Homo sapiens: one gene and its partners. The protein of the gene in region 6 purifies or fractionates together with the protein of the main gene of each other region. This does not show direct contact. Each region holds a gene or a part of one and is shown on either strand. Other genes may lie near its edges. The genes, in order: SLC27A4, GPR180, CD47, KDELR3, RFT1, LPAR2 and MAOB.

What was found.
Region 1: the proteins of LPAR2 (region 6) and SLC27A4 purify together in Homo sapiens (affinity purification with mass spectrometry; one large-scale study listed by BioGRID and IntAct). This does not show direct contact.
Region 2: the proteins of LPAR2 (region 6) and GPR180 purify together in Homo sapiens (affinity purification with mass spectrometry; one large-scale study listed by BioGRID and IntAct). This does not show direct contact.
Region 3: the proteins of LPAR2 (region 6) and CD47 purify together in Homo sapiens (affinity purification with mass spectrometry; one large-scale study listed by BioGRID and IntAct). This does not show direct contact.
Region 4: the proteins of LPAR2 (region 6) and KDELR3 purify together in Homo sapiens (affinity purification with mass spectrometry; one large-scale study listed by BioGRID and IntAct). This does not show direct contact.
Region 5: the proteins of LPAR2 (region 6) and RFT1 purify together in Homo sapiens (affinity purification with mass spectrometry; one large-scale study listed by BioGRID and IntAct). This does not show direct contact.
Region 7: the proteins of LPAR2 (region 6) and MAOB purify together in Homo sapiens (affinity purification with mass spectrometry; one large-scale study listed by BioGRID and IntAct). This does not show direct contact.

What each region holds. Positions count from the first base shown.
Region 1 is NC_000009.12:128,354,027-128,357,526, forward strand, and holds part of SLC27A4 (long-chain fatty acid transport protein 4), read left to right. Parts: intron 1-1,026; coding exon 1,027-1,164; intron 1,165-1,371; coding exon 1,372-1,536; intron 1,537-1,623; coding exon 1,624-1,770; intron 1,771-3,500. UniProt on the Homo sapiens protein: Mediates the levels of long-chain fatty acids (LCFA) in the cell by facilitating their transport across cell membranes. Appears to be the principal fatty acid transporter in small intestinal enterocytes.
Region 2 is NC_000013.11:94,625,857-94,629,356, forward strand, and holds part of GPR180 (integral membrane protein GPR180 precursor), read left to right. Parts: intron 1-109; coding exon 110-187; intron 188-1,156; coding exon 1,157-1,315; 3' UTR 1,316-3,500.
Region 3 is NC_000003.12:108,053,032-108,056,531, forward strand, and holds part of CD47 (leukocyte surface antigen CD47 isoform 1 precursor), read right to left. Parts: intron 2,536-3,500; exon of another isoform or gene 2,489-2,535; intron 1,318-2,488; exon of another isoform or gene 1,222-1,317; intron 1-1,221. UniProt on the Homo sapiens protein: Adhesive protein that mediates cell-to-cell interactions. Acts as a receptor for thrombospondin THBS1 and as modulator of integrin signaling through the activation of heterotrimeric G proteins.
Region 4 is NC_000022.11:38,466,656-38,470,895, forward strand, and holds the start of KDELR3 (ER lumen protein-retaining receptor 3), read left to right. Parts: upstream 1-1,440; 5' UTR 1,441-1,578; coding exon 1,579-1,669; intron 1,670-4,240.
Region 5 is NC_000003.12:53,102,936-53,106,435, reverse strand, and holds part of RFT1 (man(5)GlcNAc(2)-PP-dolichol translocation protein RFT1), read left to right. Parts: intron 1-632; coding exon 633-763; intron 764-2,338; coding exon 2,339-2,483; intron 2,484-3,169; coding exon of another isoform or gene 3,170-3,222; exon of another isoform or gene 3,223-3,241; intron 3,242-3,500.
Region 6 is NC_000019.10:19,625,421-19,629,593, forward strand, and holds the start of LPAR2 (lysophosphatidic acid receptor 2), read right to left. Parts: upstream 2,801-4,173; 5' UTR 2,672-2,800; intron 1,865-2,671; 5' UTR 1,856-1,864; coding exon 1,123-1,855; intron 1-1,122. UniProt on the Homo sapiens protein: Receptor for lysophosphatidic acid (LPA), a mediator of diverse cellular activities. Seems to be coupled to the G(i)/G(o), G(12)/G(13), and G(q) families of heteromeric G proteins. Plays a key role in phospholipase C-beta (PLC-beta) signaling pathway.
Region 7 is NC_000023.11:43,872,451-43,875,950, reverse strand, and holds part of MAOB (amine oxidase [flavin-containing] B), read left to right. Parts: intron 1-3,500.

The DNA of each region.
Region 1 (3,500 bases), on a different chromosome or scaffold from region 6:
GCCACCGCGCCCGGCCAAGCAATTCTCTTTTCTCACCCTCCTGAGTAGCTGGAATTACAGGCAAACCCCACCATGCCCGGCTAGTTTTTCTATTTTCAATAGAGATGGGGTTTCACCATGTTGTCCAGGTTGGTCTCGAACTCCTGACTTCAAGTGATCCATCCACCTCGGCCTCCCAAAATGTTGGTATTACAGATGTGAGCCACCATGCCCGGCCCTCATTCATTCATTTTCATATTGACTCCAAATGACCCTGAGTCCAGGCTGCTTGAGATTTATTCTGGCTCAGCTCCTTAGCTCTGTGTCATGGGCGAGTATTCAGCCTCACTGTGCCTAAGTCCCCTTATCTACAAACTGTGCCCATGGCAGCACCCACACATGGGGCTGGCCTGAGGATTATGTTTCATAAAGAACATAAAACTCTGAGTGGGTCCCGGCATGGAGCAGAGGCTTGGGGCGCTGGCTTTGTTAGGCTGTCCCCAAGGAGCCTGACTTATGTTCATCCTCCCATCAGTTTCGAGAACAAACATCACTGGCTCAGTGTGTCCGACCTGCCAAGATGAGCTCCTGGGCTGGGGGAGGGTGGGGCATTTCTGTGGCAAGCAGCATGACTCAAATCAGATCAAGACACAGAGTACAGGCTGGGAGTGGTGGCTCACACCTGTAATCCCAGCACTTTGGGAGGCCGAGGCGGGTGGATCACCTGAGGTCAGGAGTTCGAGACCAGCCTGGCAAACAGGATGAAACCCATCTTTACTAAAAAATAAAAAAAAAAAATTAGCTGGGCCTGTTGGCGTGTGCCTGTAATCTCAGCTACTCAGGAGGCTAAGGCAGGAGAATTGCTTGAACCCAGGAGGTAGAGGTTGCAGTAAGCCAAGATTGCACTGCTGCACTCCAGCCTGGGCAACAAGAGCAAAACTCCGTCTCAAAAAAAAAAAAAAAAAAAAAGACGCAGGGTACACCTGGTGACAGGACGGGTGGGAGAGGCTGCCTAGGGCAGATCTGACCCTGCCTTCCCCACCCCAGGTGAGCCGGGCCAGCTGGTGGGCCGCATCATCCAGAAAGACCCCCTGCGCCGCTTCGATGGCTACCTCAACCAGGGCGCCAACAACAAGAAGATTGCCAAGGATGTCTTCAAGAAGGGGGACCAGGCCTACCTTACTGGTGGGTCCCCAGCCCTTCACAGCCCCTTCCTGAGGGTTGGGGGAGGAGGGGACCTTCTCCCACCTCCAGAGGACACCTTCCCAGGACTCCCCCAGTCCTGGCCCTTGTGGTCAAACAAATCCTTGGGCTCCAGCAAAGCCTCCCTGGCTTGAGCCCTGGTCTCAGAGCTGGCCAGGCCCAGCCCTGCCTCATCCGGCCCCTCCCTAGGTGATGTGCTGGTGATGGACGAGCTGGGCTACCTGTACTTCCGAGACCGCACTGGGGACACGTTCCGCTGGAAAGGTGAGAACGTGTCCACCACCGAGGTGGAAGGCACACTCAGCCGCCTGCTGGACATGGCTGACGTGGCCGTGTATGGTGTCGAGGTGCCAGGTATGTGCAGGCAGGCGCGAGGTGTGGGTAGGGAGGCACCACCCAGGGGCACCACCAGCTACTCAGTGTCTACCCTGCCACCCCCAGGAACCGAGGGCCGGGCCGGAATGGCTGCTGTGGCCAGCCCCACTGGCAACTGTGACCTGGAGCGCTTTGCTCAGGTCTTGGAGAAGGAACTGCCCCTGTATGCGCGCCCCATCTTCCTGCGCCTCCTGCCTGAGCTGCACAAAACAGGTGTGTCCCTCCCCTGCTCCAGCTCTCGGATCCCAGGTCCCTTCCCGTTTCCTTCTGGAGAGACCCGGTTGGCTGTTACTTGACCTCTGCACACAGCCTGGCCGGGCAGTTGGTAAAGTGACCTGCCTGTGTAGAGGTGAGCAGACGGGGCTGGCAGAGAAGACACACATTGTTCCTTAGTAGAACACATATTAGGTGCCAGGCACAGCGCTAAGCCTCGGGATACGGCTGGTGAGCTCTGGATGTTTTGCCTTCTTGGAGTTTTAGAGCAGGAGAGAGGCTGGCCTAGGACAAGGCATTCCAAAGGTAAAGAATCGACCACATAATCTGTCATGAGATTAGAGTTAAACAGATAAAAAGAAAAATGAACCACAGAGCAAGCTGATAGGAAAGCAAAAAGGTGGGACGCTTGGGATGACTAGAAGGCTCCTCTGAGGAGGGGATGGTTCAGCTGAGACCTGAATGAAAGGAAGGACTTTATGGCGGTGGGAGGCACTCTAGGCTGCAGGAATAGACACTGTAAAGCCCCCGAAGCAGGAAGGAGCTTGGGTGCTGGAGGAACGAAAGGGGGCCCCCAAGGCTGGAGCCAAGTGAGAGGGGCAGGCAGTGGCATGAAGTGGGAGAGAAACCAGCAGGGGCCAGAAGCCCAGGGCCTTGCAGGCCAGGGTAAGAGTCGGGACTGTCCCGGGGGCAGTAGGGAGCCACAGAAGCATCTCAGCAAGGCCGGGCGCAGTGGCTCATGCCTGTAATCCCGGCACTTTGGGTGGGAGGCCAAGGCGGGCAGATCACTTGAGGTCAGGAGTTCGAGACCAGCCTGCCCAACATGGCAAAACCCCGTCTCCACTAAACATATAAAAATTAGCTGGCTGGGCGTGGTGGCTCACGCCTGTAATCCCAGCACTTAGGAGGCCAAGGTGGGCGGATCATTTGAGGTCAGGAGTTCGAGACCAGCCTGGCCAACATGGTGAAATGCCATCTCCACTAAAAATACAAACATAAAAATAAAAAAATTAGGCTGAGCATGGTGGCTCACACCTGTAATCTCAGCACTTTGGGAGGCCAAGGCAGATGGATTGCCTGAGCTCAGGAGTTTGAGACCATCCAGGGCAACATGATGAAACCCCGTCTCTACCAAAAATACAAAAAAATTAGCCAGGTATGGTGGTGGGCGCCTGTAGTCCCAGCTACTTGGGAGGCTGCAGCAGGAGGATCGCTTGAGCCCCGGAGGTGGAGGTTGTAGTAAGCTGAGATCACGCCACTGCACTCCAGCTTGGGCTACAGAGTGAGACTCCGTCTCAAAAAAAAAAAAAAAAAAATTAGCCAGGCATGGTGGTGGGCGCCTGTAATCCCAGCTACTTGGGAGGCTGAGGCATGAGAAGCACTTGAACCTGGGAGGTGGAGGTTGCAGTAAACCGAGACCGTGCCACTGCACTCCAGCCTGGGAGACAGAGTGAGACTCTGTCTCAAAAAAAAAAAAAAAAAAAAATTAGCCGGGCGTGGTGGTACATACCTGTAATCCAGCGACTCGGGAGGCTGAGACAGGAGAATTGCTTGAACCCAGGAGACCCAGGAGCCACAGGTTGCAGTGAGCTGAGATCATGCCACTACACTCCAGCCTGGGCGACAGAGTGAGACTCTGTCTCAAAAAAAAAGCATCTTAGCAGGTGGGAACCTGGTCAGACTCATGCTCTACAAAGCTCTCTGGCTGCTGTGTACGGAGTGGGAGAGGA
Region 2 (3,500 bases), on a different chromosome or scaffold from region 6:
CCTGTTGAGGTTAATCAGAACCTAAAAATGCTAGTAACATTTTTTTGTCTGGTACATGCTGAAAAAAAGCTACACAGTTCTACTTATTTCACTTTTTCCTTTGTTTCAGGGCTGTATCTTGTGGTTTTTATGCCATCCAGTTCTTGCATGCATTTCTGTCATTTTTAGCGACTACCAAAGAGACAAGGTAAGAAATATACATGATCAAAGTAGTTTTCTTAATGAAAATATTGTCTTAATTGGGAGAATATTTAAATAGGAGGGACCTATTTATTTTTTAAGACATTTTCTGGGTTATTTAAAACTTTGAAACAAAATAGTAAACCAATAAGCAGATAAATTTGAAGTTTAAAATATTTTTAAAATATTTATAAGCAAAATGGTGGAAATAGCTTTTCTTGATTGTACTACAATAGATAATTTTAAAATAGAAATTTTGTTTTATAAATTAGAGAATTTATAATACATCTTTTAAAAAATGATTAAAATTTTTCTTACATAATAGCAAAAATCAAGATTTGTAAAAATCAGTCTAGTTATTGAACAGACTACAAACCAGAGTGCCATGCTCAAGTATGATGCATTTTGATTGTGTTGATACCTACCTTCTTAGGTGAATGGCTCCATCATTTCAAAATAGAGGTCTGCCAGGAGCCCTTTACAAGCAATGCAGTATGTGCCTGAATGCACAAATGTTTATTGAGCCTGAGGTGTTTACAAAGGGTGAATAGATAGGACAGTAGTCTACAAAAATAGAGAAGCAACTTGAGAATTTTTGAAAGGGCTTTTAGAGTACTCTTTAAAGTTCAGGTAGGAGCGTGCTTTATTCCTGTTCCTAAATTAGCTAGGAACCTGATTTTTCTTATTTACTGAAACTTGTCTGTAGTGCATACCCTTAGGAGAGAATGGTTTAGCAAGTTATTCTTTTGTGCCTTACTTTGTCATCTACAAAATAACTGTTAAAGGGATTTTTATCCTTAAACAATTAGAGTTCTGAGCATTAGTCAGAAAATTTTTTTGATAAAATGTACCTATGGTAAAGATGAAAGATAGAGTATTGTATTTATATAAAAAGCATATATAGATTCATAATAAATTGAATATTATTTCTCTATTTCTGCATGTAGTAAAAGCATTCCTTTCCTTTTCTTTTCAGGTTATTACAATAGGTGTTATCCTTTGCCAGTCTGTTTCCATGGTTATTCTCTACAGACTCTTTCTGTCTCACAGTCTATACTGGGAAGTTTCTTCACTTTCTTCAGTAACACTACCACTGACCATATCATCTGGACACAAAAGTCGCCCTCATTTCTGATACTTGATTTTTGTTGAGAGGAAAAGTGAATTGGTTAAAAGAGTGCAATAAGGATCCAAATACAGTGACTTTTTTTTCATACATTTAGTATGAAAACTTGAACAGCGAAAGCAGAGCATGTTATTTATATAACTGCATTTAAGCAGTACCAAGACTGAAAAAAAAGGTAATAAATGAAATGTTTTGAAATATACTTAAACAACAAACTTTGAAGAAAGTGTTGTTATAAAATTATTGAAGCGATTTCTATGTGGAAATAAATGTGAAAAATAACTATGATATTTTGGTAAAATATTCACCACTTATAATGCCTCATCTTAATAGCTAACTCAGGTTTAATAGTCTTATAAAAAGTAATCAGTTAAATGATTACTTGCTTATAAATATCTAAACTAGTCCAGTTATGAAATCAGTGTAATACATTGATTTTTAAAACTGCTGCTTTTTATGCTTTAAGGAAAATGTATTTCATATTTGAGTTTAAAGGAATTGAAATTACTTCAGGAAATGAATATAAAATAGGTTCACAGTTAAATGAATAAGCTTTTGTTTATTTGTGGGTGGAGTTATTCTCCAATTTTTTCTGCCATTTTTGGCTCTAGTTCAGGTTTTAGCTTGATTAGCAAAGGTTTTTGACAAACAGTTTATGAAAAAATAAAACTTAAATACATTACACGGGTTGTAAGGACAAAGGATTTTAAAATCTGAGCACTTAGGTGAAGGGACAAGCAGGTTTATGTGTTTAAACAGAAAGAAGGGAAAAGGTACTATGTGATATGGTACTGAAATTTTGATCCCAATAGAATTCATTTCTCTTACGTTGAATCCCCAATCATAATTAAGCCGTATACACAGATTAAATTAACAGAAGCATTTCACATAAATGTTGGTTTCAGTCATCAACTACCCATGAATTCCTGCCCAAGGATACTTAATCAGGATTAAATTTTCTATGAATAATTGAAAAACAAAACACTCACTGGATTTGTTATAATCCGTGTTGGCACTGGATTCTAAGTAGTTGCCATCTTGAATCCTTTGTAATAAAGCCATACTTTTGTGTGTGTGTGTGATGCCCCAGTATTGAGTATGCTAGCTAAAAAATATCAAGTGCCTGATTAAAGAATTGCTAAATGGTTGTCAATACTCGCTGTATAAAATGAGTATTCCCATTAATAGTCACTGATTGGAAATTATTCTGTTGCTGTTTGTCAAGCTGTTCAGGCCTTTTCCTTTTTACTTCTGGCTTATTTTAAAAATATTTTTTATCTATTTACTGTGTGTTTAAGCAAGCAACAGTGCACTGATCTGGTAGTTAAATTTTTTAATTAAATAGTTAAAATAATGTAGTGCAACTTAAAAATATCTATGGCTTTGTTTTTGTTTTTCTTTTGTACCTAGTCTCATTGGAAATGACTAGTATTCTGCCTCATTTTCAGGGCAGAATATGTGTTTGTGACCCAAAATGACAAAGTTACCAAGTTCAACCTGCTCATTAAATCATCTCTCTATTAGTTCTTTGTAAATCACTTAGTACATTAGAGCTACAGGTTAAGACTAGAAAGTCTGAGTTATGTTTTAGGTATACATGATCGTCTGAGTGGTCATAACCTTTTCTTTTATCATGTCTCGCTAATAACCCCAGCTATTGTCTGTTGTGTTCAGCTGAGATGCAAAAAAGAAATTAAGCAAAAAAGAAAAAGATGAAGACTTTTCATGAATTTTGTGAACTTGCCAAAAGGGGAAGGGAAAAATCTTTGTGTTACTTCACTCAAAGAACATAAGTAACTGCAATTAACATATATGAAATTTATTACTCTGCTTGCATTTATGAAACTAACCAGTTTTTTAAACTTTAATTCTTAAATTTATGGTTGGAAATGCTGATAATTTATTTTGTTATTTAAGAGCTGTTGTTAAGTGGAGGAAAGTAGTTGTTAATAAATGTATAAAACTGTTCTTGACTAGTAATCAGGGACAAAATTTATAGTTCATAAGTCATGACACAGTATTCGCTCTTTTTCTGAATGTTTACATAGAGATTCATCACTGCAGATTACAGAAAGTTAAGTGTATACTACAAACTCTAATTAAAGATAAAAATCTTTTCTACTTTTCTTTGTCAGATAATGCTTTTTTATGTGTTTTTACATTTTTTGAAAGAAGATAAATGGTTCATCCAGAG
Region 3 (3,500 bases), on a different chromosome or scaffold from region 6:
TTGAACAGAAACATGCCATGAACCACTCAGCAGGAGGGGGATCCTACTGAACAGAGAGGCCCATTCCGCTGGGACCTGGGCTGGATGACAGCACTGGATTTTCTCATCAGCAGATGGAGGCACGCCTCCAGGACTGCTCTGTGTTCCTTACTATTTATTTACCACCACTGCACACTCGAATTCTGTCAAGCTTCCAAAGCTGGCAGGGAAAAGGGTGGGTCCTGACCCAAGGAAAGCCAATCTGTGAGCCAGCCAAAAGCTGGTGAGTCTTTCTCAAACAGGAAAAATGGCAACAGACTGGACTGACAAGTTTCTCCCTGCCACTGGACTCTAAGAAGAAACAGAAAAAAACCCAGAAAGTTGGTGATGGGAAGGGAAAGTGAAAAAGAAACAGAAAGGAGACAAGGATGAGTCCAAAGCTGTAGGTAAGAAAAGTTGTCTGTGAGAAGGCATGAATAGGATAAAAAACAGTGGCATAAACAAGAGGGTGAGCTAGCTGGCTAATAGGCAAAGAATCAAAGACAGAGGAACTCAGGAACTATAACTGACAGGGGCATCACCTTACTCTTGCTGCTGAGAGGGCAACACGATGCTTCAGTTCTTTGATATGGAATGGATCCTTCCAATTCCTAGACTACATACTGTCCCACCCCTGTGAGGCCCAGTTATGTATCTGAGCTCATAGGAGTCCAGTTTCTGTTAGTGCCATGGGCGGCTTTAAATAGGCCTCCCTTACTGTGGAGGAACCTGGGGGAGTGACTTGGTCCTTGTATCCAAACAAGAAGCCAACCTCTTTTTAAAGTAGAACAGGGTAAAATGGGTTGGGATGCACTACATTTAGCAGCCTCCCCAATAAACTAAGCAGAAATACAGAGCTTTATTTGGGAACATCAGGATAGTTACATGTATATACAACTGACTTCAATGAAACCATGCCTTATATCTATGTTCTACAAAGAAAAAGAGAACTAAACAACTATCTAAATTTCTGATGGTAATATGGAAGTTCAGAGATAAGGTTTTAGAGTTACATTTTTGAGCTCATAAATGTATTTATCAGAATAAACACTGCCAGGTGTAGTGGCACATGCCTGTAGTCCCAGCTACTTGGGAGGCTGAGGTGGGAGCATTGCTTGAGCCCAGGAGCTCGAGGCCAGCCTGGTCAACATAATGAGACCCTGTCTCTAAAAACAAAACAAAACAAAATAGAATATTGCTAACCGCCAAGTAACTCCTTTTCTTCCCTAATAATGTAGAAAGAATACTTTCTAGTTCTAAATCTCCGATCCAAGGGATGTCACAGTTGGCTGGCCCATTCTGAAAAAAAAAGATTTATGAAGAATGGTACTTCAAAGGGACATCAGTCAGTTGTGATCCCTCTAAATATTATAAAACCAAACAGTGTACAAGTTAATTTCACCTGAGTTAATTCTCTCCAATATGGATATAACCCATGTGACAAAAGAATTATTACGATTTCTGCTGCTACCATGAGCCTAAGACATTGACAGCCATATATATATATTTTTTAACCACAAGCCTTAAGCATTCCATATGAGCATACTTGCAATGCTTCTTGATTTGTTCTTCTCTCCCTGAAACATCTGACTCCATGCCATAAATACATTTCCAGGGTTTAAATTTTTCAGAAACATTTTTTCTATTGATACCAAATTTACCTCTCCTTAAATTGAACAAGAAAATATCTGAATTTGTATCTATACATAGATATAAATTCTACGTATATATTCTGCATCTGCATCATTCTAAAATATCTGGGATGTTGTGGTAAATATGGTACTTACTGCTACCAGATTGATTTGTATCAAAACACTATATGCCCTTATATTGAACTAACTGGTAATGGCTTTAAAAATGAGAAAGTATTGATCCTTATAATTATATAAACGTTCTCTACAAACAACAAGCCCAACTTTAGTGAGTTTGGTTAGGTTCTTGTAATCTTTTCTATGCTTTCACATTAAGTTATTGTGCCCAGTCCTTTTTCTCATCTTATAAAATTAAAATGCTTCCAATAAAAGAAAAAAAATACAACACAGTTTAAAAAGTTAAAAAATAGAAAGTGAAAGTCACTTTCACAGAAAGTTGTAGAAAGTGAAAGGCCTACTCTTTAAAATAGCAAATTAAGGCTACAAATTTAAAGTTGGAAATAATAAAAATTATAAAAGTTAAAAATCTCATAGCGACATTAACTTCTTCTTGAAGAGAAAGCTTGGATTTTTAACTATTTGAGGATTTTATTGCATTTAAATCAAAACACAATCATTAGGCTTTTCTAAAACAGAACACGTGCAATGAGTAAAAATTATTTTGGAGACACTTAAAATTTTAACTTCCTAATATAAACGCTCAAATTTGCAACCTTAATGTTACATAGATTCAGATTTACACAGTCAGATTATATAAGCAAACCATATTAATGTTCCTCCTAGTCTACCATGTTATCTAAAGAGCAACTTTCCTGTACCTTGTCTCTTCTTGCCTTTCAACTGACTGTAGGTGTCCCTCTGAACCCTGGCATCAGACAAGTTGATTTAAAAAGTTAATTTAGGATACTATCAATAAAATTAGGACACTATCAATAAAATTGCACTAAATTTTAAACATATAGCATAAATTTTAGCATATAGTATACTTATATGCTAACCTATGACAAAGAAAAAATAATTTGGGGTACTTGTCAAGATTTAAGTCATTTTAATTTTAATGTCAGAACAGTGACAGGTACAGTACAGTGGTTTCACAGGCTTGGAGGAACGTAAGTGATGGAGAAGGCAGGAGAGTGAAGTTAAGGAGGTGGCAGATAGACAATGCTTAGTTCCACTTGAGACATTGTCACCAGACCTGCTGGCAACTGTACTGAAGATCATTCTATGCTAGATATGGAAGGCATGGGGTGGCATGGGAGTAAAAGGGAGGACAACCCAGATAGTGAGGAAAAAATAAGAGCGTGCTGCCCGTCAGCCAAAGGTATCTCATACTACTTCACCAGAGTTGTATGGATACTGCAAATCACACACTATTCTCAGGCATTTGTGGGGAGCAACAAAACCAGGAGTGTCATCTTCCAGAACCAGACACATGGTGATTGGAAGATGTAACAAAAATAGAATATGCACCAACATTCAAGATGTTCACTGTAGCTACCACATGAATTCCATTCTGCTTTAGATGTCTCCATTGTATTTTATGGCATTATGTGGTATAAAATTAGAAAATTTCATTGAGCAACAACTAAGACTTATGAACTCATATGCTAAGGATACGCAGATTTTAGTTAAGTATTTTAATTATTTATCTAATAAGCATTAATTAAAGAAAGACACAGAATATATGACAGAATTGAATTCAATTAACAATCATCAAGAACCAAAGTTCAGAAATAAAGGTAAAAGTTTTTTGAAACTATTATGTGAGTCATATGAGAAATTATTTGACTATAACAATTCAAGTTTCGTATTAAGTTTTAGAAACACATA
Region 4 (4,240 bases), on a different chromosome or scaffold from region 6:
TCTCTACTAAGAATACAAAAATTAGCCTGGCGTGGTGGCGGGCGCCTGTAATCCCAGCTACTTGGGAGGCTGAGGCATGAGAATCGCCTGAACCAGGGAGGCAGAGATTGCAGTGAGCAGAGATTGTGCCACTGCACCCCAGCCTGGGCCACAGAGCGAGACTCTGTCTCAAAAAAAAAAGGACTGCCTTTCCCTGGGAGGAAAAGTAGGGAAAGTAGGGGGCATAGGGAGCCATAGAAGGGTCTTGACCACTGAAGTGACAGATTTTTATCACAGAAAAGAGGCTGGCCATAGTGGCTTATGCCTGTAATCCCAGCATTTGGAAGGCTGAGGCAGGCAGATGGCCTGAGCACAAGAGTTCGAGACTAGCCTGGGCAACACAGTGAGACCCCATCTCTGTTTAAATACATTTGTCATGGAAAAGCCTCTCTGGTTATCTGTGGCAGGAGGTGGGAGTGGGAGGAGGTCCGTTATTTAGAGAGAGATGAGGGCGCTGAATGGGAGGAGGGCTTATTCAGGTCAAGGAGGGGAGGCTAAGGGCCCTCAGCTCACCTGGTCCACTCTTTCAGACGCAGAGACTTATATCCAGAGGGGGTGGTGGACCTGCTCAGACCACACAGCCCTGGGAGGACTCCCTCCCACCAGGGACCCTTCACTCCCCACCCTTCCTGGTGCTCAGCCCTCCTGGGTCTCTCCTGTCCTGTGTGTCCCTGTTTAACATCCTAGTAACACCAAGAAGAGGGAAGGCACGAACGAGGGCCCTGGATCTCCCTGACCAGCTTGACCTCCTGCCTACCCACAACAACCCGATTTTACAGGTGAGAAAATTGAGACCAAGAGAGAGGAAGGCCCACCGACCCAGGCTGCAGCCGAGGTCAGTCTGATTCTGCTGCTGAGTGGTGTGCCATTACCATTGTCCACCTGCAGCAAGATCGGGTCCCGACCGGGTGGACAACCAAATTAACAGACGGAGGTGGGGACTCCGCTTCCGGCTCGCCCCGCCCCACCCCACTCTCCCAGGGAGGGAGCTCCAGCTCCGGGAAGATGAGGACAATAGCAGGAATCGCCCCACAGGGTACTTCCACGTGCTGGCTCCTGCCAAGCGCTGGCACCAGTGTTATGGGGCCTGTGTACAGATGAGGAAACTGAGGCAGAGATTGGGGCTTGGTGGCAGGCCTCCAGTTTCTGCGGAGGGAAGGCAGAGGGCACTTGGGGCATGGGCGACATGGGTCGTGGCGGGCACCCGGCGCACACGGCAGCCGGGCGCAGGCCAGAAGCCCCCCCGCGTCGCCGGGCCGCCCAGTCCGGGAGCCGGGCGCTGGGATGGGCGGGAGGCGGGATCTCCGGGCCGCGCCGCTTCCTGGCTCCCCACCCTGCGCCGGCGGCCGCCCTGGCCACGTCACCGCCCGGCCAAGAGTGCGTGGGCGGCGGCGCGCGGGTGCGATCGCGGAGCTGTGAGGCGCAGGCAGGGCTCTGGGGCACCTAGAGACCGGGGCCGGAGACGTGGCAGCCGCCCTGCCCGCCAGAAAGTTTCCTAGAAGTTTGCTGGGCGCGGGCGCACGACTGACTGGCTGGACCATGAACGTGTTCCGAATCCTCGGCGACCTGAGCCACCTCCTGGCCATGATCTTGCTGCTGGGGAAGATCTGGAGGTCCAAGTGCTGCAAGGGTGAGGGGCGCCTGGCAGGGAGGTGCGGGACCCCCTCTCTGGCCAGCCTCATGCCCCTGCGTGCAGGGCAGGGCGCTCCAGGTGTCTGCTCAGGGTGGGGACTCCGGCGTGGGGGTCCTTGAAACTTTGCGGAGCTCCACTTCCAAAAACAATGTAAAGTTGTATAAAATCAGAGGAGGAGGACCCCTCGAGATGATGGGAGGCGGGTGGGTTTGTTCCTGCACAGACGCCCCCTCAGGTTGGCAGTGTCACTGCTGGTTGGAAGAGGGGGTTATAAGGGAGGTGACAACCCCTCCCTCCCACCAGTTACACCCATTGTTCCTTCCACCATCGACTGTGGGGAGAAGCAGATATGCACTCAGGAACGGCCCACGATTCTCAAGGTCTTCTCTTCCCTGCCCCTTCCCAGACCCCACCCCGCCCCCCAAAGTGAGCCCTCGTCCCTCCCCTGCCTGCATGTGTGGCACCGGTGGCTGTGATGTGGCAGGAGGGCACCAGCCGGGCTCAGGCGGGTATGGAGCTGCCTCTAAACGGAAGCCGGGGAAGGCTGGAGGGGTCCCCTGTTTGCATTCTGGCTGCCCTGCTGGGGGTTTGGAGAAGCTTGGAGGCTGGACTCGCGGTCGCCAACAGATCCAGAGCCACGAAAGGCTGCCAGAGCCTCCTCCAGCCATCTTTGTCCACCGGCATCCTCGTGGTGCCCTCCCTGTGCCTGGCACTGGGTGTGCAGAGGCAGGAGTGAGCTCAGGCTCCTCGTGGGGCTGAGGAGGCTGAGAAGGCTGAGAGTGGGCCCCGAAGGCCCTGTGGAAGGAGCAGCTCCGTGCTGGTCCCGGAGGACGAGCAGGTGTCAATCCAGGAAGTGTGTGCTGTGGAGGGCTCCGGGGATGAAGAGGCATGGAGGTCACCAAGCACCGGGCATCCCCCGGGAAGGGTGGGCAGCCAGATTTGGGGTGGTCTGGAGGGAGATGAGTCCAGGAGGGAGGCTGGTCCAGATGTGAAAGGGCCTTTTCTGCCAGGCCAGGGAGTTGGGTCTGGGGAGCCCTTCATGGTTTGGGAGCCGGGAAGGGGCCTGGAAGGGGGCCTGAACAGGTTGCTTTGCAAGCTTTGAGAGAAAAGGCACAGAGCAGGGGGAGGCCTGGCAGGGTGGGGGTTGGTGCAGACATGAGCAACAGTACGGTGTGGAGGGAGTGGTTCTAGGCCTGGAGGCCATTTGGGTTTGGGGTCTCTGGAGAGACAGGTACAGAGACAGTTCAGGTTCTTCCTCAGGGGAGGTGGCCAGGAATGCTGAGTGGGGGACCCGGAGCAGCAGGCCCTGGTGAGGGGAGAATCAGCTCCAACCTCTTCCTGCACTTTTGCAGAAGGCCCTGCACGGAGTGAGCAACCATGACCAAGAGGGGACACTGGTACCTGGCCGCTGTCTGCCAGACACTGCTGGGCACCTAGAATACAGCCCGGACAGCAGAGGCCCAGCCCTGGTGGAGCTGACTTTCTTTTATTTATTTTTTATTTTTATTTTTTAACAGAGTTTCGCTTTGTCCCTGAAGCTGAAGTACTGTGGTGTGATCTCGGCTCACTGCAACCTCCACCTCCCAGGTTCAAGCGATTCTCCTGCCTCAGCCTCCTGAGTAGCTGGGATTACAGGCACGCACCACCACACCCGGCTAATTTTTGTATTTTTAGTAGAGACGGGGTTTCGCCATGTTGGCCAGGCTGGTCTTGAACGCCTGACCTCAGGTGATTCACCCACCTCGGCCTCCGAAAGTGCTGGTGCTGGGATTGTAGGCGTGGGCCACTGCGCCCACTTCTTTTTTTTTTTTTTTGAGACAGAGTTTTGTTCTATCCCCTAGGCTGGAGTGCAGTGGCGCAATCTCGGCTCACTGCAACCTCTGCCTCCCAGGTTCAAGCTATTCTCCTGCTTCAGCCTTCCAAGTAGCTGGGATTACAGACGCCCGCCATCACACTCAGCTAATTTTTGTATTTTTAGTAGAGACGGGGTTTCGCCATATTGGCCAGGCTGGTCTCGAACTCCTGGGCTCGAGTCACAGGTGTGAGCCACCATGCCCGGCCAAGTGGTGGACCTGACTTTCTAGTGGTAGGAAGCCATCAATAAACAATAGTCCTAGGAAACTGAGCAAATGACACGGTTTGTTGGAGGCCATAGTGAGTACTATGGGAACAGAAAAAGGGCAGCTGGGTGGCAGGGATGGGCCTGTGTGTGCACAGAGAGAAGTCAGAGGTGATGGAGGCAGGGCCTGGTATGACCTCAACAGACCCAGCCCCAAAGACCAGAGACTTGGGCTTCACTCTCACTCCTCCCCTTGACTCGCTGTGTGACCCTGGGCCTGTGTTTTCCCATTTGTCAAATGGGAGTGAGGGCTGCCCCTGGCAGTGGGGTCCACCTATGCTTAGTGGACCCCGGAGGGACTCTGGCCAGTCCAGGCTCACATTGTCCTCTGTGTCCCGGGTCTCCATGTGCAGCTTCCTGGTGGAAATGATTGTTTTCAAAAGTGTGAAAACTATTGTGCTCAAGATCACCGGGGGGCTGGGCACAGTGGCTCACACCTGTAATCCCAG
Region 5 (3,500 bases), on a different chromosome or scaffold from region 6:
AAAACATCAACTTTGCATTAATGACCTGTATAAGAAAGTACTGTTGATGGAAGCATTCTGTATCTTGACTGTATCATCGTTGGTATCCTGGTTGTGATATTGTACTATAGTTTTACAAAATGTTACCACTGGGTAAAGGGTATATATGGGATCCCTCTATTACTTCCTATTTTTTTGTCTTTTTTATTTATTTTTTATTTTTTGAGACAGGGTCTCATTCTATTGCCCAGGCTGGAGTGCAGTGGTACCATCACAGCTCACTGCAGCCTCAACCTCCTGGGCTTGGGTGATCCTCCCACCTCAGCCTCCCAAATAACTGGGACTACAAATGCACACCACCACGCCTGGCTAAATTTTTCCATTTTTGTAGAGACAGGGTTTTTCCGTGTTTCCCAGGCTCATCTCAAACTCCCTGGCTCAAGCAGTCCACCCACCCTGGCCTCCCAAAGTGCTGGGATTATAGGCATGAGCCACCGTGCCTGGCCACTATTACTTCTTATAACTCTGTGTGAATCTATAATTATCTCAAGATAAACAAACTTTAATGAAAATATTAAATAATTTTAATAGTGCTATAAAAATTAAAATAGAAAAACCAACATGATTGTTGTTTCTTCTTTTTTGTTTTGTAGGTGTGTATGATATAGTGAATAATCTTGGCTCCCTTGTGGCCAGATTAATTTTCCAGCCAATAGAGGAAAGTTTTTATATATTTTTTGCTAAGGTGCTGGAGAGGGGAAAGGATGCCACACTTCAGAAGCAGGTAATGTTGGTTCTTATGTCATCTCTCAAGTGAATTCTCCCTTTAATTGCAAGACAGACAGGAGTGTGAAGCAGTCTGTTTCTCTTCTGTTTGATCAGGAATTTTCTTATAGATTTCATTCTTCTATTACATTCTTCATGATAGTGGGACCCAGGGCTCACCTCTTCTTTCGTGGCCTTCTTGCTTTGCTCTTGGCTGTCCCTTCCTTCTCACACCTTTGTTATTCGTTGTGACCTTACTCTTTTTGGGGGGGGGGGCGGGGATAGAGTCTTGCTCTGACGCCCAGCCTGGAGTGCAGTGGCATGACCTCGGCTCACTGCAACCTCCACCTCCCAGGTTCAAACGATTCTCCTGCCTCAGCCTCCTGAGTAGCTGGGACTACAGGCATGCGCCACCACACCCAGCTAATTTATGTATTTTTAGTAGAGATGGGGTTTTGCCATGTTGGCCAGGCTGCTCTTGAACTCCTGACTTCAGGCAGTCTGCCCACCTCAGCCTCCCAAAGTGCTAGGATTACAGGTGTGAGCCCCCATACCTGGCCATGTGACCTTACTCTTGATCCAGCCCTCTCAGGACTCTAAAGCTGTCCCCATTGCCCTGCAGATGCCCAGCCATGGGCTAGTCTTAGGCGTAAGAATGCTTCCCTTATCCTCAGAGTCTCAAGAGCCAAAGGATGCAGAAGTTGGAGCCAGGCTAATCAAGGGCATAGGGAGGAGAGGAAGTGGTTGTTGGCTTTCGCTCACCACACCAATTATTTAAGCTTCTTACAACTGGGACATGCCCAGAGCTACACTCTGACTGTAAGATTCTGTATACTCGGGTTGGTAAATACAGAAGAAGAGATTTTAATCTAGGAGTATTTTGTTGTAGGAGCTTCACTTTTTCCAAAACCACTGAAAATGTCTGACTTTTCTTAGAATAGCAAGCTAGTTCAGCCTCTTGCTTGTCTTAGAAGAAATTTAGTAAAATACAGTTTATGCACAATATCTCAAAATGAGCTAATCTGGTACTCAGTCTGATTTAGGAATATTTTCCTAAGAGTACCTTCACAGTATCATCATAATTTTGGAATGTTTAGCAGGAGAAGCACAGAGCTGGCTAGTGTATATGAAAACTTGCTGCACATTTAAGAATAAATATTAGTGGTCTGGTGCAGTGGCTCATGCCTGTAAGCCTCACGCTTTGGGAGGCCAAGGCAGGAGGATTGCTTGAGGCCAGGAGTTTGAGATTAGCCTGGTCAACATAGTGAGACTCCCTTCTCTATTTCTATTTAAAAAAAAAAAAAAGAACAAATATCAGAGGGGAAAGTGAGTGTTTCCTAAGCAATATTTGAAACAATTTATCCCAAGTGAATTGAAAACTAACCCTCCCCCTTACGACCTAAGGAGACACACACTTTTTCCTTCATTTGCTAACTGACGTGAAAACAAACACACTACAAAAAAATAGTGATATCCATCACGCTGTTGGAAGAGTGAACTGTAAAACAGTGAAGGGAGAAGGCCAGACGTGAAGGATGAAGGTTTTCTTCAGCTCATGATTCATCCAACTTCCTTCCCTCTTCCCTGGCCCCAGGAGGACGTTGCTGTGGCTGCTGCAGTCTTGGAGTCCCTGCTCAAGCTGGCCCTGCTGGCCGGCCTGACCATCACTGTTTTTGGCTTTGCCTATTCTCAGCTGGCTCTGGATATCTACGGAGGGACCATGCTTAGCTCAGGATCCGGTACGCACAAGAGTTTTTCTGGATTTTTTCTGATTTCCCAACATAAATAGAAGAGTCACGAAATTCAAGAACTTGTGCACACACAGTTGTTATCTGTGTCAGTGTAGGGAAAACTGTCTGGTGGCAGGGGCTGTGGGACTGTTCCCCTCGTTCAACTCCAGACACACACTCAAGGTATAGGCAGGGGCGTTGGCGCCAGGACAATCAGCTTCCCCAGCCTCACTTGGAGAAGTTATTAGGACTTCTCCTTGCTGTTGGCTTTCCTCTCGGGCCTAGAATGTGTTTTGCCAAGCGCTTCCCTGTGCTCCCTCTGGGGTGAGGGAGGAAGGCAGAGGGCAGACGGTAATGAGTCTCCACTTGGTACTAAACACATCTGAAGATAGTAAATGCCACATAAATCTCCCAGCCTAGTGCATAAAAGCCTCTGAAGGATAACCCAAAGCCATTTGCAGAGAATAAAATTGATCTCTGCAAATAAAATGGTATATTTAATCCAGTGACTCTCAGTTTTTGAAGAAGAAAAGTATTGAATGTGTCTAATTTTGAAACACCAGGCCGCTGAGGATCTCACAGCACTTGTTAGGTCTTGGGGACTTCATCAATTTCAAAATGTGCTGGGCTGTAAGCTGGCAGTCCATTTGCAGTGCTTCATCTTGGGTTTAGCAAAGATGTTTTTAATTTCTCAGGTCGCTGGACAAGAACGCTGAGGACTTCTTTCTGCTGCCCCATCTCAATATAAAGGGCTTTGTCAAATGCCATTTTACAAGTTCACTAGCATGTTTTAGTCTCCACTACAATGGGGCCCAAACTTTTGGTGTTAGGGGAGGAAGGGCCAGGTTTCTATACCAGAGCAAAGGTCATTAAGTTTGGAGAAACACCTGCTGTGAAACCAGTGAAGTGGTTTGCAGCTCCCTGGGGCTTGTGCTGTGAGAAGTGTATTTCCATCTGGCAGCTGTGGGGAGGCCTCATGAGGAAGGCATTAGTAAGTTTATGGGCAGAGATTGGGAACTCGACTAT
Region 6 (4,173 bases):
TGGAGCCATTGTAATCCAGCCTAGGCAAGAGTAAGATCCTGTATCTTAAAAACAAAAATAAATTTTGAAATTTAAAAATATGGGCCGGGCGTGGTGGCTCATGCTTGTAATCCCAGCACTTTGGGAGGCCAAGGCGGGTGGATCACGAGGTCAAGACATCGAGACCATCCTGGCCAACATAGTGAAACCTGGTCTCTACTAAAAATAGAAAAATTAGCCAGGCATAGTGGCACGCACCTGTAGTCCCAGCTACTCAGGAGGCTGAGGCAGGAGAACCACTTGAACCTGGGAGGCAGAAGTTGCAGTGAGCCGAGATTGCGCCACTGCACTCCAGCCTGGGTGACAGAGCGAGACTCTGTCTCAAAAAAAAAAAAAAAAAATTAAAAATACATATAGATTAAAAAACAATTTAAAGGCTTTTTGTTAAAACAGGCTTAGCACTGCTAAAAACTCCTTTTTTTTTTTTTTTTCTGAGACAGAGTTCTGGAGTTTCGCTCTTGTTGCCCAGGCTGGAGTGCAATGGTGTGATCTCGGCTCACCACAACCTCCGCCTCCTGGGTTCAAGCAATTCTCCTGCCTCAGGCTCCCGAGTAGCTGGGATTACAGGCACACACCACCATACCTGGCTAATTTTGCATTTTTAGTAGAGATGGGGTTTCTCCATGTTGGTCAGGCTGGTCGTGAACTCCCAACCTCAGCTGATCTGCCCGCCTCGGCCTCCCAAAGTGCTGGGATTACAGGCGTGAGCCACTGTGCCCGGCTAGCACTGCTAAAAACTCTTAAGGGGTTCCCATGAAACTCAAAATAAGACTCCTGTCCGTGCCCCTTAAGGCCTTGCTGATCTCTCCTCCTCACAAGCCCACTTTCCTCTTTAGAGGCTCTGGCCTCGTACTGCCTTGAGGTTTTTACTTTCCGTTTCCTCTGCCTGGAAGGCTCTCTGTTCCTATCCTCAGCATTCAGGCCTCTGCTCACATACATTATCACCTCCTTGGAGGACATTCCCCACCTAAATCATCCCCCATCACCCTCTATCAGGTAGCTTGTTTTGTTCATTGCTTCGCAGTGTCTTGTGGGAGATAGGGGGAAGCAGGGTCCCTGTTGCCCCCTGGGGGCCCCACTTACCCAGGATGATGACAACAGTCTTGACCAGGCTGAGCGTGGTCTCTCGGTAGCGGGGGTGGCAGCTGACATGCTCTGCCATGCGCTGCACTCGCCGCCGCACGTAGAAGAAAATGCGGGTGTACACAGCCACCATGAGCAGGAAGACAAGCAGGCTCGACAGAGCCCAGACGGCCAAATAGGAGCGGCTGAGCAGGGGTGCCATGCGTGAGCAGCGGTCCAGGGCACAGAGGCAGTGCCAGGAGTGGGCAGGCAGCAGCCCCAGGCCCAGGGCAGCCACCCACACGCCCACAATGAGCATGACCACGCGGCCACGGGGCAGGCGGCTGTGCAGCTGCACGGCCATCACACTGCGGTGCCGCTCCACGGCGATGGCCAGCAGTGTGGCCACCGACGCAGTGAGGCTTGTGTCCAGCAAGCCCTGCCGCAGGAACCAGCCCTCAAGTGAAAGTCGGGCTGTGCGGGGACCAGTGTGGAACATGAGGAAGAGGTAGGCCACGCCCGCGAAGAGGTCAGCCGCGGCCAGATTGCCGAGCAGGTAGTAGATGGGCTGGTGGAAGCGGCGGTTGGAGGCGATGGCTGCTATGACCAGCAGATTGGTCAGCAGCACCAGCACGCTGACGGTCAGCCCCAGTGCCACCACGACCACATCCTTGGGCCGCCAGTGGGAGCTGAGCTCTTTGCCACTGTTGTTATAGAAGAAGCCGATGGTCTCGTTGTAGTAGCACTGGCCCATGATGACCATCTGGGGACACAAGAGATCAGTGCATGTGGCACTTCTTGGAAGGACACAGGGAGGGGCGGCAGCTGCAGAGGAGGGTCAGCGCAGGAAGGACAAGGGTCTCAAATTCAGATACCTCGAAGCAAAGTGGCAGTGGTGAGGACTACGGTGGCCTGGAAAAAGCAAGCTCCATGGGGCTGGGGTGGAGGTGGAGGAGCAGCTGTTTCTTACCTACTAATAAGACCTGTGTGCAAGACATCACCCAAGTCAATAGGTTTTTGAACCAGAAGTGAAACAAAACCCATCTATGGTCGAATCCCAGCCCACCTGCCGCCAATGTGTGACCCGGTTTGGGTTGTGGGGAGAGGAGGGTTAGGGAAAGACAAAGGGGTGTGAGCTGCGGGAAGAGATGAGGGAGGATCACTTTGGTGCCGGAGTCAGTGTAGGGAGCAGAGACCCGGGAGCGTGTGCACACAAGGGTGAGGTCACTTGCTAGAACCCTGCGAGGGGGCGGTGCCGAGGCGTGGAGGTGATCGGAGTGGACAGAGAGGCGGCCCCAGAAGTTAGTCGGCGGGATTTGGGCGCGAGTGCTTCCCAAGCGGGCGGGGCAATAGGCTGTTCCGGGTGGGACGGAGGACACTGGCGGTCTCCGGGACAAAGACAGCGGTTGGGGAAGGGATGGATGGCCGGGCCTCCAGGCGTCTCCAGACTGGGGAAGGGGTAGGGGGTTAAGGGATCAGAGGGCGGCGTCCTGGCCCCGCAGGCACGTGCCGCGCCCTTCCCCCGGGCCCAGGCCCGCACCCGCCCGCCTCCCGTCCGTGCAGGCCTCACCTGGGCCTCCAGTCACGCCGCAGACAAGGCGGGCTCGCGGGGGTTCGGGGCGGGCTCGAGGCCCATGGCCCGGCGACTGCGGCGGGAGCGGTAGAGCGTCCGGGTGCGCCCTGTGCGGGTTGCTGAGAGGGCGCGGGAGGCGGGGTCTCCCCGGCGCCCCGCCCCCACCACCTGGGGGAGCCCTGCCCCGCCCCGCCACCTGGGGGAGCCCCGCCTCCACGGCCGCGTCGGGGGCGGTGTCGCCCGGAACCGCAGCCCCCCTGTTTCCTCCCCGCCTCGCGGCCCCTCAGTCGCCCCTATTTCCGGCGCGGGACCCCCACCCCGGTACCTGCACACCTCATGCGCCCGCAGTTTCGAGCCTGCGGGGCTGAGTCACTCGGCGACCCGAAAATTCCCGCCGTGACCCCGCGCTGCCCGGGCGGAGCTCCAGGTGGTCTTGGGTCCGCGCCCCCGCTCCGGACCCCCAACCCTCCCAGCCCCACCCCGCTCTCTTCTTCGTGTCCAATCGGCCGCCGAGTTACAAGCCACTCCCTGATCCGACTTGGCTCCCACCGCCCGGACCCCCGCCCAGCTTCGGCTTTGCCAGCTCGCAGTATCAGCGAGCCGCGGCCTCCTGTGCGAGGCCCACCTCTGCGGCCCCAGCTGATCATCGGGCGCACGCTAGGGTTTTGCAATCCCGCCCCCGTACCCCTCACCCTGGGACAGCGCTGCCCCCTGCAAAGCCCGGCCCTGCCCTGCCCTGCCCTGTGGCTTCCTCCCTCGGCCTCCCTGCGGCGGCCCCGGGCTCCCACGGTCCGGAGCACACAGCCCCATTGTCCCGGTTATCGGTACTTTGTTATACTGTATTTGATTATGCAGGACCGGATCGGGGACGCAGAGCTCCGGGAGGGCCGGGCTGGCGTGACTCAGCCGGGTGCTGCGACCCAGCTCCAACTGCCTTTACGTAGGTGCTGCAGGGTGTTTGATGATGCAAGAAGGAGGCCTTGAGGCCGGGCGCAGTGGCTCACGCCTGTAATCCCTGCATTTTGGGAGGCCGATGCGGGACGATCACGAGATCAGGAGATCGAGACCATCCTGGCCAACATGCTGAAACCCCGTCTCTACTAAAAATACAAAAAAATTAGCCGGGCATGGTGGCAGGCGCCTGTAGTCCCAGCTACTCGGGAGGCTGAGGCAGGAGAATCGCTTGAACCCGGGAGGTGGAGGTTGCAGTGAGCGGAGATCGTGCCACTGCACTCCAACCTGGAGACAGAGCAAAACTCCGTCTCAAAAAAAAAAAAAAAAAAAAAAAAAAAAGAGGCCTTGATTCCCCTAATCTGTAAAATGGGGGCAAGGAGTGCTACCCATGCTGGCCTCTCCCCTAGCAGAGATGCACCCAAGGGCATATAGGACACAGTTTATTAGAGGCCATCAGACCTCAGGCACCACCAGCATGTGGAGTCTGAGCTGCCCACCTCCTCCAGGAAGGTCACTTCGAGTCCGTGAAGGAGGCAGGCAGGTGT
Region 7 (3,500 bases), on a different chromosome or scaffold from region 6:
AAATGTGGTTATTAATTCTTCAATTTATCCTTCTGCAAAAGATGCCCTGCTAGATATCAAAAGCTCTTTCAAAGAGCTTGTCTCTTCAATTTGTCTTGGTACTTCTTCAGCCAAGTTTCTTCAATTTTTCTTGGTACTTGAAAAGCGGGTGAGTGTTCCTGGGCTAACTCCTAGAATTCTCAATAAATGTTAACTTTGTTATTTGTACAAGTCACTGGGCAGTACTCAATTGAGGGCACCCTGGAATCATGCAAGATCGAATACCCTTGAAGGGTGCAAAAGTGAGCCAAATTGAGGGGCCACGTTCAGGTGTAATATGTGTCTGAAGAACGAGTGTTTTCAGCCCCACAAGAGAATGCTTTGGAAATTTGCTCAGGTTAAATGTGTACCATTGTGCTTTTGCAAGAATCTCATTCGCTGGGCTTAACTTATTAGTAGTGTGTCTGCATAAAAGTTGTTATTTCCCCTAAGAGGAGGCCATAATGGTATAAAATTCCTTCCTGATTTTGAATATTCAAGGAACAAACTTAGAAGACCAAGCTAAAAAATACTTTGGTTTAATAGAATCATTGGTGACTGAAGACGGAAGCATCTTTAGAGTTTTACCTACTAGTTAAGATCGCCTGGTTTTGCATCCAAGAAAAAGCACATTTAGAGAGTGCAAAGGGCTGGCTCCAGACCTCACAGCCCCTTCTTTTGAATAAAATTATTGTCCTGGAGGATGAGCCCTCAGCCTTAGGAGAAAATGCAAACAGAAGGACAACCTGATCAAATGGTGCTGGGTGAGAGGTTAGAATCACTAATACTTTGAATGCACTATTTCTACTTTCTGTTTTCATGCTCACAAAATGGATCCATCTTTGGCCTCCTCTGTTAACTCAGTAAATAAAGATACAGAAAGCCAAGTCCCTGTTAGCAATGTTTCCTAAGTCAGCATGCATTTATTTACTGAAGGAAGGTATAGAAAAAGAGTAAGACTAAGTTCCCAGCCTCAGGAAACTTAAAATGCAGATGGAGACACAAGACTAGCACATACATGCAATAAGGAACAATTAAACTAATGTATAATTGAATTCTGAACTGTGGGACCCAAGGACTAAGTTAGAAGAATCATTAAAGACCCCAGGAGTTGGAGAAGGTCTCATTAAGGGAGTAGAATTTAACAGATTCTGAAGAACAGTCCAGGTTTGGGAGGGTAGAGAAGAGAGAGGCTTTAAAGATGAGAAGAATCATTTAAATCATAGGGCCAGAGACTTCAGTTAGCAGGTGATCTTTATATTTACAGGACAGTAGAAAGTCCAGCTTGTCTAGAATAAAAGGAAGGGGAGACATGGGAAGGAAAGTTAGTAGGAGGGGGGCAGGATCCAAAAACGAGCAATTGAAAAACAAAGTGAAAAGTTAGGTTTTCCTGTGGTAAGAAATAGGGAGCCATTGACAGTTTATACTATAAAGATAAGGTGGATGGTCGTGTGCCTGATAACCAGGGAAGCCAAAACATGGATAGAAATTCAGGAAAGGATTGAGAGGTGATCAGCTGATTATAATGTATTGGGTTATTCTGAATGCCCAAGGGAGGTTTCAAGAGAAATGGGGATAGAAAGAAGGGAAGAATGAGTAGAAGGAGGTGTCCAAAGTTGCACTTGGCTTTCTTCACTGTCTTGCTGGCAGCCTATCCAGAAAAGAAGTATCACAAACAATAATTAGTTGTAATTTAATGAAGTTGTAGGCACTCCATAAAACATTTACCACTGTTACTATTGCCACCTATATTTTATTTTTGCAAACTTCCCTCCAAAGTTTTATCATTGGGATTGAAGGACTTGACTGTATTTACATTTTTTCTTCTTTAAAAAACTAAAAACAGAGATTTTCTTCCCAAGGGCTGTGACCCAGTTTACTAAATGATAAAACGTGTATCTCTGGCAATCTCAAACACAAAATGAATAGTTCATCTTATTTGTTATATAAAAACTGTCGGCCGGGTGCAGTGGCTCACACCTGTAATCCCAGCACTTTGGGAAGCCGAGGCGGGCGGATCGCGAGGTCAGGAGACCGAGCCCATCCTGGCCAACATGAAGAAACCCTGTCTCTACTAAAAATACAAAAATTAGCCGGGCGTGGTGGTGGGCGCCTGTAGTCCCAGCTACTCGGGAGGCTGAGGCAGGAGAATCGCTTGAACCAGGGAGGCGGAGGTTGCAGTGAGCCGAGATGGCACTACTGCACTCCAGCCTGGCGACAGAGACAGACTCCATCTCAAAAACAAACAAGCAAACAAAAACGAACAAAAATGTCATTTAAACCTTTTGTTTTGTGAGAGAGGGGCACCATCAGAAAACATCTTCAGGTAGGTCTGACCTTTCAAATGTTAGTCATCTTACCATAGTCTCCATTTAATGGCATCTTAAATGTCATATACTATCTAATTTCCACTTCATATCTGAAATTTGAGCTCTTGATCTTATGTTATGCATCTCTTAGCTAGGCCATTTTTAATTCTACTCTCCTCCTCAATAACATTTATCAGAATTACACAATGATGAAAATGTCCTACTAGATACTTAGTTTTATTTGCTCTCCTTCTAGCCTAAATAATCGTCCCTTTTGCTTAACCTCTCCAACATTTTTAATGATTCTTTTAATTGAATTTGGAATCCTTACTTCATATTTTGAAGTTGGGCTACTTTTTATTGCTGTGATCCCAGTGGTGTGTGTGTATTAAATTGTGTATTGATAATTATGTCTTTAGTTATATCTCATTTCTTTGGGTTATTTTCCAGTTTTCTACATTAAAGAAACAAGCTCATTGGAAGAGCTTTTGTTATCCAGCAAAGCATCTTTTTTCAGAAGGATAAAGTTAAGAATTAATAACCAATTTAGTTAATAACCAAAATTACTTCAAACATTTGGTAAGAAGAAAGGCCACTGATAGAAATGAAAGATGCAATCACATTCCATCTTGATGATCTACAGTTTGAGGACATTTTTTAGAGAGGTGTGAGTATCTTTTTTAATAGCATGAATGCAGAAATAATAAACATTTGTTGTGAAAATCTGTAAATTATAGAAAATGGCAAAAAGAAAATGAAAATCATCCATAATTGAACTCCATAAAATATTTACCACTGTTACTATTGCCACCTATATTTTCTTTATGCAAACTTTATGTTGTATTTACTGTACTTATTTGTATCCCCTTTAAAAATAAATACCAACATGTTATGAATGTTTACCTATGTCTTAAATGTTTTTTCATGATTTTATAACATTAGTTCATATGATTGTATCACAACTTGTTGAATCAATCTCCTATTGCTGAACATTTGTGTTTTTTTCAAACTTTCTGCTATTTTCAACAAAGCTGTTATGAACCTAAATTGTTGTACATAATTCTGATTGTTTCTTTAGGAAATTTCCAGAGATAAATGTTAGAAATTCTTTTAAGGCATTTAATAATTATAGCAAAATTGTCGCCCAAGAAAGTTTTACCAATTTACCTTATG